Linked DNA regions of Homo sapiens. The protein of the gene in region 1 purifies or fractionates together with the protein of each later gene. This does not show direct contact. Each region holds a gene or a part of one and is shown on either strand. Other genes may lie near its edges. The genes, in order: DIRAS2, UNC13B and FTO.

Region 1 (3,833 bases):
TGACGGTAATTTAAAAGCTAACATGTTCGGCGCCATCACCAACTAAGCGCTATCAAAAATAAATATACAAATGATCTCAGATTGCTGTGAGTTATGTGTCCTTCTCTTTCCTGCCATTAACTGTGGTGCTGTCTTGAACCTATTACTTAGTTCTTTATCAGAAAGACAAAAGGATTAGATCAAATAATTCCTGTGATTCTATGAAAAATAACCAGTGAGTAGATACGAGGGATCCAACTCACATGCAGCCTAGGGGTTTATTGTGGCAGAAACAAAGGAAACAGGTATGCCTGATGGGCATCATCATTTTGCACCACTACTAACTTCTATCCCAAGAAGTACTGCCCCCCCGGGTTTGCTTCAACCTTATTCTTGATTGCAGAGGTCAGCAACTTAGCCCGCAAGTCCCATTATGGGTCATTCAATTCTCATATAATTTCTTTTACTGAACAAGCAGCAGCAAACCCATTATAAAACTAATGAACAGCTAGTGGGCTATTCTGTACTATGCAATAAAATATATTTCACAGATCTTTTAGTATTATGCTTTACTGGTATGAGTATTTTCAATGTTTGTCTCTATTTGACACCATTAGATAAAGTTTAGGGTGAAATCTCATGCTTTATAATTGACCCATGAATACCGGATTCTTGAAACACAGAAATTAATGACCTTAATGAAAATATGTCCATTTCTTTATCTAATCCCTGAACACCTCCATGATCAGTGAGTGCTCGTGGGGTGGGTACAATTTCCATCACATGGTTCTCTGTCTCAGAAATTATGATAGGAGACTTAAAGAGGGCAGCGTTTTGTATGAGAGGATCTGGGGCAATATTTTTCTAAAGCTAATTAATGTCTGCAAAGTGATTATTTTTCTGAGAAAATAAGAACGCAAGAACTTTCCATTAGGCCTTCTCATAATAAACACACACACGCCCTTCCTCCTTTACCATCTTTAGATAATCATCAGAGCTCAGACAAAGGAGCCTTTGAAGGAGGAAGATTTCCTTCCTCTGTCATCCTTACACTCTGTTTTATTGGAGCACTTTTGTGCCTTTTGAGTTTGGGAGTTTCTCTCTAGAAGATGCGGAACAAAAAGGAAAAGTGATCAGAATCCAGGTTTCTTCATCGAGGGCAAATCCAGGTGGAGTCCACTCAGCTCTCTATTTGCATAAAAAAAATCCAGCTCAGTGCCATTTTTGTACAAACTTAGACTCATCTCCCCAGCCTTATCACCCAGCTACCTACCACCCCAATTACGTGCACACACACACACACACACACACACATGATCAATGGAGTATTTCATTGCCTCCTTGCCTATAAAACAATCATCTGACACTTAAAAAGGGATTGACTAAGCCTTTTGCTTCCTTCTCTTTACCTTTGTGCTTCTCTCTTGGGACCTCTTTGGCCTTCACTGGGTTCTTATTACAGAAGGAATGGTAGCAGACCACAAAATGTAAAACTGACATTAGCTTTTGAGTAAGGTCTGTGTAAATGTTTGCAAGCCAAGAAGAGATAGAACTACTGGATAATAGAAATGGCTGGGTAACCTAGATTTTGAAAAGAACTTGAATTTCTCTGAATATCATGAAAACCATGTGCTTATCTATTTTTTTAATTTTGCCAGATTTACATATAATGCTTTGTGCCTCTCTTTTTTGTTCTTCCATTCTTTAAATGCTAGTTTAAATTCCTCCACATACATAATAGTTTCAAGATGCAGAAATAAATCAAGTTGTTGTAACAAATATTTAAACATAAAAAACGAAGAGGTAAATATGGGAGAATTTTTAGTGGTTTCAGAGTAGGGGAGGACTTTTTAAGGATGAACTCAAACTGAAATACTAAAAAGGAAAAGTTTGTTAAATTGGATATACAGAAATTTTAAATTTCTGTCCAGAAGACAATTAAAAATAGATAACATCAAAGGAAAGATATTTGCAACATATTTCAGATGAGGCCTAATTTTTTAAAATACAGTGGTTCTCAAATTTTGTAAGCATCAGAATCACCTGATGGCCTTGCTAAGCCTGAGACTGCTGACTTCAAACCCATGCGACTCTGATTCAGCTGATCTGACTCAACGGGGAACAGGCTTTCTAACAAGGTCCCAGTGAAGGGGACAGTGCTGATCTTTCAAGCACAGCCGGAGAGCCACGGCCTTAATCTAAGATAATACCATCCCTGCAAACTACTAAAAACCGAGCAAAGAACAAGAACACACCGGTTTCAAAGATACAAATACCAATCACTTTTAACAGAAAAGACGCTCAATGTCACCCAAATTAAGCAAATGCAATTAATTCAGTAATGAGAAACAGACATCTTGTTTCAATGGAAGGGATCAAAGAGTTTGATAATACACCATATTATGCAAGGTTTGGGGAAATAGCACTCATACACCTTCATGGGACAGGTGATGGAGAACTTGATAGTAATTTTCAACAGCAACAGGCCATCTCTACCCAATTTGAAGTGTACCTACCGTTTGATTCTGCAGTTCCATTTACAGGAGTTTTCTCTACAGATAGGCTCAGAAACATGAAATATTTAAGTATAAGGTTTTCATTGAGCAAAAGACTGAAAATAGCAAGAAAGTGGTTAATAAATGATAGCTTATCCCTCAGCAGAGTCTTCTGAAGCTGTTAAAAAACACAATCTGGCTCTATATATACTAATATGAACAAATCTGTAGATGGCTCCTAACTTGCAATGTTTCAATGTATGATGTTTTGACTTTACAATGGTGGGACTACTACATACATTCGGTAGAAACTGTACTTCAATTTTTGATATTTTCCTGGGCTGGTGATATGCAGTGATATATTTTATGATATTCTCTCACTATGCTGGGCAGTGGCAGTGAGCCATAGCTGTTAGTTATCCTCATGATCACCAAGGGAAACAACTGATACTCTATAATTGACTATGTTGCCAGAAGACTTTGCCCAACTGTAGGCTAATGAAGGTGTTCTGTGCACGTTTAAGGTAGGCAAGGCTAAGCTATGGTATACAGTAGGTTAGTTGTATTAAATGCATTTTTGACGTGATATTTTCAACTTATGAGGGGTTTATCAGACTGTAGCCACATGGTAAGTTGAGGAGCAACTGTACATGAAACACTGTGTATACCATACTTCCATGTATTTGTCTATCTCTCTGACTAAATAGCTATCAATTGATATCTGTCTCTCTTTGACTATGTACCATTTTGTTAACACTTGATCACAATTCTGCTCCCTTAGCAATGACCACTCAAATCATTTAGTCACATGCTAAATGTTCCACTACCATTCAATTTATGCTTTTGACAAGAGACCATTTCTGGTGATTGAGAAAAAAATCATGTTGAGTAAGTTGCCATTGTGAGTTAATGTGAAACAATGAGCCAATGAAGTTACCACATTGTAGAAATATTCAAGTTTGTCATATTTTGTTGCATTTCAAACAAAATATTGTTGATTTTTGCATGGTAACTTTTTGGTGATATGTTTATTCTTACAGAGGCATTCTGTAAGAATATTCAGGGCCGGGCACCATAATTGCAAACCATCTTATCCACACCCTTGGCTTCCATCCCTACCTCAATGCAGGTAGCTCACGCCTATAATCCCAGCACTTTGGGAGGCCAAGGCGGGTGGATCACGAGGTCAGGAGATGGAGACCATCCTGGCTAACACCGTGAAACCCCATCTCTGCTAAAAAATACAGAAAATTAGCCGGGTGTGGTGGCGGGCGCCTGTAGTCCCAGCTACTCAGTAGGCTGAGGCAGGAGAATGGCGTGAACCCGGGAGGCGGAGCTTGCAGTGAGCCAAGATCGCAC
Region 2 (3,833 bases), about 55 Mb from region 1:
GGAGAGAAAATTAAAAAAAAAAAAAAAAAAAAAAAAGGAAACAGCCAAAACCACTTCCTATAAACTGTGCTCAGCCACCCGTAACTTTGTAGCTCTTTTCCAACAATATACACACCAAGGTCAAATCCTCTCACAGTGCAAGGTCATCTCTGGCACCCAAAGCCAAAAAGGTCAGGTCATGCAATACAGGAAAACAGAGCTTTAGACCTAAGAAGAATCTGCCCATGACTCTTGAAATCCCACAAAGCCAAGAGAACACCCCAAAAGGGGGTGAGTGGCACCTTTGTTCTAAATTCTTTTTTTTTTTTTGAGATAGAGTCTTGCCCTGTCACCCAGGCTGGAGTGCAATGGCACGATCTCAGCTCACTGCAACCTCCGCCTCCCAGGTTCAAGTGATTCTCCTGCCTCTGCCTCCTGAGTAGCTGGGATTACAGGCACGTGCCACCATGCCTGGCTAACTTTTTTTGTATCTTTAGTCGAGACAGGGTTTCATCATGTTGGCGAGGCTGAGTCTCGAACTCCTGACCTCGTGATCCGCCCACCTCGGCCTCCCAAAGTGCTGGGATTACAGGCGTGAACCATGGCGCCCGGCCTAAATTCTTTAAAGAGGTTCAAGTCATTAGAAGCCTTCTCTCGATTTTTTGGTAATGCAGATGGCAAAGGGTGAAGGAGGTATAGGGTGGAAGAAAAGTAAACAAAAGAACAATTGAATTTTTTTTTTTTTTTTTTTTAATTTGAGACAGAGTCTCACACTGTAGCTCAGGCTGGAGTGCAATGGCTCGATCTCCACTCACTGCAACCTGCGCCTCCTGGTTCAAGCAATTCTCCTGCCTCAGCCTCCCGAGTAGCTGGGATTACAGGCACCCGCCACCATGCCCGGCTAATTTTTTTTGTATTTTCAGTAGAGACAGGGTTTCACTATGTTGGCCAGGCTGGCCTTGAACTCCTGACCTCGTGATCCGCCCGCCTCGGCCTCCCAAAGTGCTAGGATTACAGGTGTGAGCCACCGCGCCCGGCCTAAGAACAGTTTAATTTTTAAGACCAGGAAGCAAACACAGAAACCAAATACATGGTTTTTTGTTTTCTGTTTGTTTTTTCTTTTGCAGCTGTGAGGAATTTTACTCAAATTAGATAGGCCTTGTTACCCATAATTTGGAATTCTCACTTGGATTTGACCAAGTGAAGTAGAGTTGGTCAATGGGAAAAAGACAAACAAAATAAAAAAAAACCCAACAATATGATCACTGAGCACTCTAATGGTAAGCAGAAATTAAGACCAGCTGGTTGTTAACTTTAGCCAAGACAAAAATCCCTATTCAGCTACTTACCTAGGGGTGCGTCTCAGGCTGAAAACGGCTGTCTACCATCCCAGAAGTAGGAAAAAAACCCCTCATCTTCCCTGTTGGAAGTGAGCTCAAACTCCATAAAAGAGTTACCTGCCTTCCCTCGTCATGGAAGCAGGAAAACTTGCCTTCCTTGTTGGAAGCAAGTAAAACTCCAAAATAATAATAATAATAATAATAATAATAATAATAATAGAGGGAGTTGTACAACAAAATGAACTTTAGATCTCGACCAAATTTTGGGAGATCAGGGATTCTCTGGAGGGGGTGCTCCTAGACCTTAGCAAATTGTCCTGTTGGTTTGAGCCATGGAGTTAGCTCATGTTGGTACCAAGCATGGATAGGAGATTTGTCAAAGATCAGAGGTATCTCCACTCACAATCCCTCCGTGGTTACCATCCTTCATTCAGTAAATATTTACGGACTGATTACCATACACTAGGCACTATTCCAGACATTGGAGATACAATGATGAGCATAAAAAACGGTCTAGATAAGAACTGAGGTCTCCAGACATACTTTATGCCCACTCAGTTTTGTCTTTTGCCCTAGTTGCTAAACAAAACTTAACTTTGCTGTGCGGTGCGACTTCGTTAACTTAAAATTACAGGCTGTCAGCTATGACCGCTAGACTCTAAGAAAGTCCAGTGGAAATCCTTCAATGAAAAGAATCTGTTCTTGGGTGGAAGCCCCGCTCATGCAGGAGGAACAGAGGGCTTCCATTCTCGCGTCACACAACTGAGGGTCAACCCCTTGCTCCCTGCAGTAAGCCTGATTAGTGGGCGGAGCTTCCTTCAGGATCGCAAGAAAGAAAGGAGGAAGGGGACCCCGCCTCCTACGTGCTCGCGGGGGGGGGCGGGGTCGGTGGACTGGGCGTGAGTTAATTGGCTGGGGGGCGGGGCACCACGGGTTGGCTCCGCCCAGGCGCTCGCGCGGATCCCGGGTGGAATGACGGGAGGGAGTCCCGGCAGCTCCTACCTCCCAGCGATGGCGTCGCTGTGCCGCGCCCAGTCCCCAGCCTGCCGGCCGGTACTCACCGCTACCCGGAGTTCGCTCAGACGGTGAGATTTGGGGCGGGTCCGAGGCAGCGGCGGGACGCTACCTGCGACCGGGACCATGAGGAGCTGCCAGACCCGTGGGGCCGGTAACGAGAGCAGTCGCGGCACCTGCTGAGAGGAAAGAGGGAGCGGTCCGGCGCGGCTGGGGCGCGGCAGAGGCTTGCCCGATCCTCGGCCATGTCACTGCTCTGCGTGCGCGGTGAGTGCGCGGACTGAGGCGGGGAGGCGGGGTGTCGGCGTAGAGGTCCCCGCACCCTTCCAGTGGACGTCCGGTGACCGTCTCACCCAAACTTTACATCCCGTCCGTGCTTTGGGGGTCTATTATTTTGGCAATCACTTAACAATCACTTGAGTTCTTTCCACTTTCTTGTTTTCCCCCAAGCTCCTGCAAGGGACGATTAGCTCTCCATTCTGGTAGCCATGTGACAATGTTGTTGGACTGCAGGCTCAGATCCTATTAAACAGTGACTGGGGTTCTCTAGTGAGAGTGGACGAGTTAGAAGACCGCGGATGGTTGGTGCCTGTGAATGGTGGGCAGCCTCTCATTCTTTTCCTCCTCCTCGCACCGTAACGCTACAGTATGCTTAGTAGCAGGTTCTTTTTATCACACTTTGAATGCGTTAGTGGTACAGCTGTCACATCCCTTCTATTGCTTGTCTTGTCCCCTGCCACTTCCCTGAACACTAACCGGTAGTATAGGCTAAGATTATTCTTCTGTTCCACTTGGGAGGATGTGGTGACTGCTTTTGAGGATAAGAGGTATGATTTATTTTTATTTTTATTTTAGCTTGCCTCACAGTAACTCAAGGTGAAGGGCCATTATTGCTTTTCCCCTGAGGACACTTGACCCATCTAAGAAGATATCTTAAAGCAAGAGCTTTGGGGTTTAAGATGAGGCATGGTACGCGAACTAAGTTCTATGTGGGTAGAGACTGTTTCTTATTAGTTTTTGTATTCCTGGTGTCTGACGTAGTAGAAGCTTAATGCTGGTTTTGAATGAATGCAAGTACTGTGACTTCAGAGAGATTATCTGATCAGGAAAACACAGGGTTTGGATTAGCCATTGAATTTGATCTCGGGAAATTCAGGTTACAGCCTATCATATCTGATGTGTCTTGATTATGAATGAGAGAGCATTTATCAACTAGAGCCTTTACCTGATATCTTTTACTGGAGAGTTCATATTTCTTTTGGCTCTACAGATTAGAAGCATTGTTGTTGTTTGTGATTTCTCCAATAACGATGTTTCCCCCAGCTACTGGCAGATGAAACTGCTTTGCTCTGTTCTCTTCCACTATTTTGTTGAATCTGCATTAACCAAAATGGATTTGGCCATTTCCCGGGATTATGAGATATACAGTTTTTCTTCTTTCATGGTTGATTTTTCATTAATGAGAATTTTGCTTTGCTTTTAGTAAGACATTTTCTCTCA
Region 3 (3,600 bases), on another chromosome or scaffold:
TATAAAATGAAAGAACTCAAGCATTATTAAAATATGTATGCATATATATATATACACACACACATATACACACAAATAGGTTTAATATGAATATTATTATAAAACAGACACGAGTACATGAGTACTACCACCAGCACACTACTGGTGGTGTGCTGGAGTCAGTCCACACTGGCTCATGAGAGCCCACTGTGTGCATCTCTTTCCAACTGCACATTCAGTAACACCGTGACGGTGGCTTGAAACTGTCCACAGTGAGAGTATTTACACTGCGGAAATCAAAAAACACTAAAAATCAAGGCTGGTTCTTTCCCCCTACAGGCCACTTGTTAAACACTTTCTAGGATGTCACTGTATGTGCTTATCTACTGATAAGAGTATGTGATCAAAAATATGTGGATAGGAGAGAAGATACTTCTTATATTGGAATAGGCTAGAAGGAAAAAGAAGGTATGAATTCAGATAGGATGATAAATGTAATAATAGTAGGCAGATGAGTACGTTCTAGGGTTTCTTTTGGAGGGGTGGTAGTTAGAGAATGCTCTGACTTTCTCAATGAAGTTAAGGTGAATCACTAGCTAAGAATGTATGCTGGTCATTAGAGCTGTTTGCCAAATAGTTCTGGATTCCTCCTCTGCCACCCAGCTTTTTGGGCCCAGTGTAAAATTACACTTCCTGGTCCCCTCAGGATGGATGAAACATGGGATTACTTCTGTCCAGTGAAAAATGATGGCCATCCCTTCCAGCCTGGAACATGTCATTGTCACTGCAAGACCCTCCAGCATACTCTGCACCCCTCTGCCACAGCAACCAGCTGGTGGCTGCTTGGATCTCTGAGCTACTTTAATGGGTAGTGACTCTGTGCCAACCCACAAATGATACATAAAATGGACAAGAAATATTATTGTGTGGAGCCACTGAGATTTGAGAGTTATCAGTTACTATAGCATAATCTAGCCTGTTCTGAATGAGGCAGAGTGCAGGAGATATTATAGAAGACATGCAGAAAGTGGGAGGAAGTATGCAGAAGAAAAATGAATGAGTCAAGTCTGAATGTGAAAAAATGACTTTACTAGGTAAGTGTGGTAGGACTGCCCTGCTTCTCAAAATGCCTATCTGAGGTGTTGACCATGAATTGAAAGTGACAAAGAGAAGAGTCATGTGGCATACCACTATGGATTGTCATTGAGATTGTCAGGGATCCATTAAGGATTGAGTTTCCATATTTTAGTTATCCCCATTGGAAAACAGAAACAGTGATATCGTACTTTCTATTTACATAGCTTATGAAGAAAGCAATGCAATCCTGTAAGCAGAGACCAAATATTCTGAAGCCATGAGCAGCAACTCTAATTCTATCACTATACTGGTTACTTTCTTAGCAAGTCCCTGAGGCCCCAGTATACTCAAAGCAATGATGAAGAAGTGATGAAGAAGGTAATTTCTTCACACTGTCTTAACACCTCCAGTACTCTCTGAATGGTCCTTAGTATAAAACAATAAAGAAAAGTATGGTAATTCCCAAGAACTCTGTTTCTGAACACACTCCCCTCTGGGACTAAGAAAGGAATACTGAAAATAATGCACTCATATGCACAAACGCCTGCCCACCCCCCATTAAAATTCTGCTGCCCTTATTCAACATACACTGGGTCTCAACACTGCATAAGATATATTTAATATGGGGAAATTATAACCCTATAGACCAGGAAAAACATATAACCACATAAATATCATCTGTAAATACCTTGACATAAAAAACAGCATAAAAAGAAAATAATGGCATGGGAAAATATTCCATTTTTTTCCCACTCAGATCATGTCCCCTTTCTCTCTGACCATATGTGCTTCTATTCCTGCAGTCCTCAAGTGTCCAGCTCTTAAATACTTCCCCCAGGCTCCTCCCCCAACTCCACACCTGGATGGTCCTTCCCATCCCTGGGTCATTTTCTTATAGAAACCTTTCCTGGACATGGATGAAACTGGAAATCATCATTCTCAGTAAACTATCGCAAGAACAAAAAACCAAACACCGCATATTCTCACTCATAGGTGGGAATTGAACAATGAGATCACATGGACACAGGAAGGGGAATATTACACTCTGGGGACTGTTGTGGGGTGGGGGGAGGGGGAGGGATAGCATCAGGAGATATACCTAAAGCTAGATGATGAGTTAGTGGGTGCAGCGCACCAGCATGGCACATGTATACATATGTAACTAACCTGCACAATGTGCACATGTACCCTAAAACTTAAAGTATAATAAAAAAAAAAAGGAAACCTTTCCTGAATCTCCACCCTCAAATAGGTGCCCTCTGTTATCACTCCCCACGCTTTACTTCTCTTTTGTAGCACTTATCTATTTGTAACTATATTTATTTAAACTATTATTAGTTTAATAATCTGTCCTGTAAGATCACAAGCTCCTAAAAGAAGATAGTACTAGTGGCCTGGAGCGGTGGCTTACACCTGTAATCCCAGCACTTTGGGAGGCCGAGGCAGCTGGATCATCTGATGTCAGGAGCTCGAGACCAACCTGGCCAACAAGGTAAAACCCTGTTTCTACTAAAAATACAAAAACTAGCTGGGCGTGGTGGCGGGCATCTGTAATCCCAGCTACTCAGGAGGCTGAAGCAGGAGAATCACCTGAACCCGGGAGGTAGAGGTTACAGTGAGCCGAGATCACACCACTGCACTCCAGCCTGGGTGACAGAGCAAGACTCCATCTCAAAAAAAAAAAAAAAGAAGAAGAAGAAAATAGCATTAGTATCTGTTATAGCCACATCACTTGGTTCCACATAAGTGCTCAAGACTCCTTTCTAAGAATAAAAGCTTTAAAAGACTGAAGCAGATGAGTGGAGATCTTGGCTGGGGCAGGAAAGAAAACTAAATGTAAAGAGGCATGAGAGATCTTTTTGGGGTGCTAAAAATGTTCTAAAACTACTGTGATGATGGTTGTATGCCTCTGGAAATTTACCAAAAATCACTGAATTGTACAATTTCAAAACGTGCATTTTATGGTATGTAAATTATACACATATACAGTTAATCAATAAACTTTTTGAAAAAGAAGATTGATAGATGTGAATATCTGAAAATTTAAATTTTTGTATAAAATAAATCATAAAATTAAAAGGCAAACAAACTGGAAAAAAAAAGTACAACCTATATGGCAGGAATGCAGAAACATTAATGCAGAACCATTAAAAATTTAAATACACACACACACACCCATTCACAAGCAAATTAATAGAGAAGCCTCTTAGCACATAAAAAAATTAACTGCCTGGGCGTGGTGGCTCACACCTGTAATCCCAGCACTTTGGGAGACTCAGGCGGGTGTATTGCTTGAGCTGACGAGCTCGAGACTAGCCTGGGCAACAAGGTGAAATCCCCTCTCTACTAACAATACAAAAAAATTAGCCAGGTGTGGTGGCATGCACCTGTGGTCCCAGCTACTTGGGCAGCTGAGGTGGAAGGATGGCTTGAGCCCAGGAAGTGGAAGCTGAAGTGAGCCTAAGCCTGGGCCACAGAGTGAGACCCCATTTCAAAGATAGATAAATAAATAAATATTAACTGTATCAAAGTTGGAAAATATAT

What was found.
Region 2: the proteins of DIRAS2 (region 1) and UNC13B purify together in Homo sapiens (affinity purification with mass spectrometry; 2 studies listed by BioGRID and IntAct, with this or other methods). This does not show direct contact.
Region 3: the proteins of DIRAS2 (region 1) and FTO purify together in Homo sapiens (affinity purification with mass spectrometry; 2 studies listed by BioGRID and IntAct, with this or other methods). This does not show direct contact.

What each region holds. Positions count from the first base shown.
Region 1 is NC_000009.12:90,636,097-90,639,929, reverse strand, and holds part of DIRAS2 (GTP-binding protein Di-Ras2), read left to right. Parts: intron 1-3,833.
Region 2 is NC_000009.12:35,159,706-35,163,538, forward strand, and holds the start of UNC13B (protein unc-13 homolog B), read left to right. Parts: upstream 1-2,303; 5' UTR 2,304-2,578; coding exon 2,579-2,600; intron 2,601-3,833. UniProt on the Homo sapiens protein: Plays a role in vesicle maturation during exocytosis as a target of the diacylglycerol second messenger pathway.
Region 3 is NC_000016.10:53,819,156-53,822,755, reverse strand, and holds part of FTO (alpha-ketoglutarate-dependent dioxygenase FTO), read right to left. Parts: intron 1-3,600.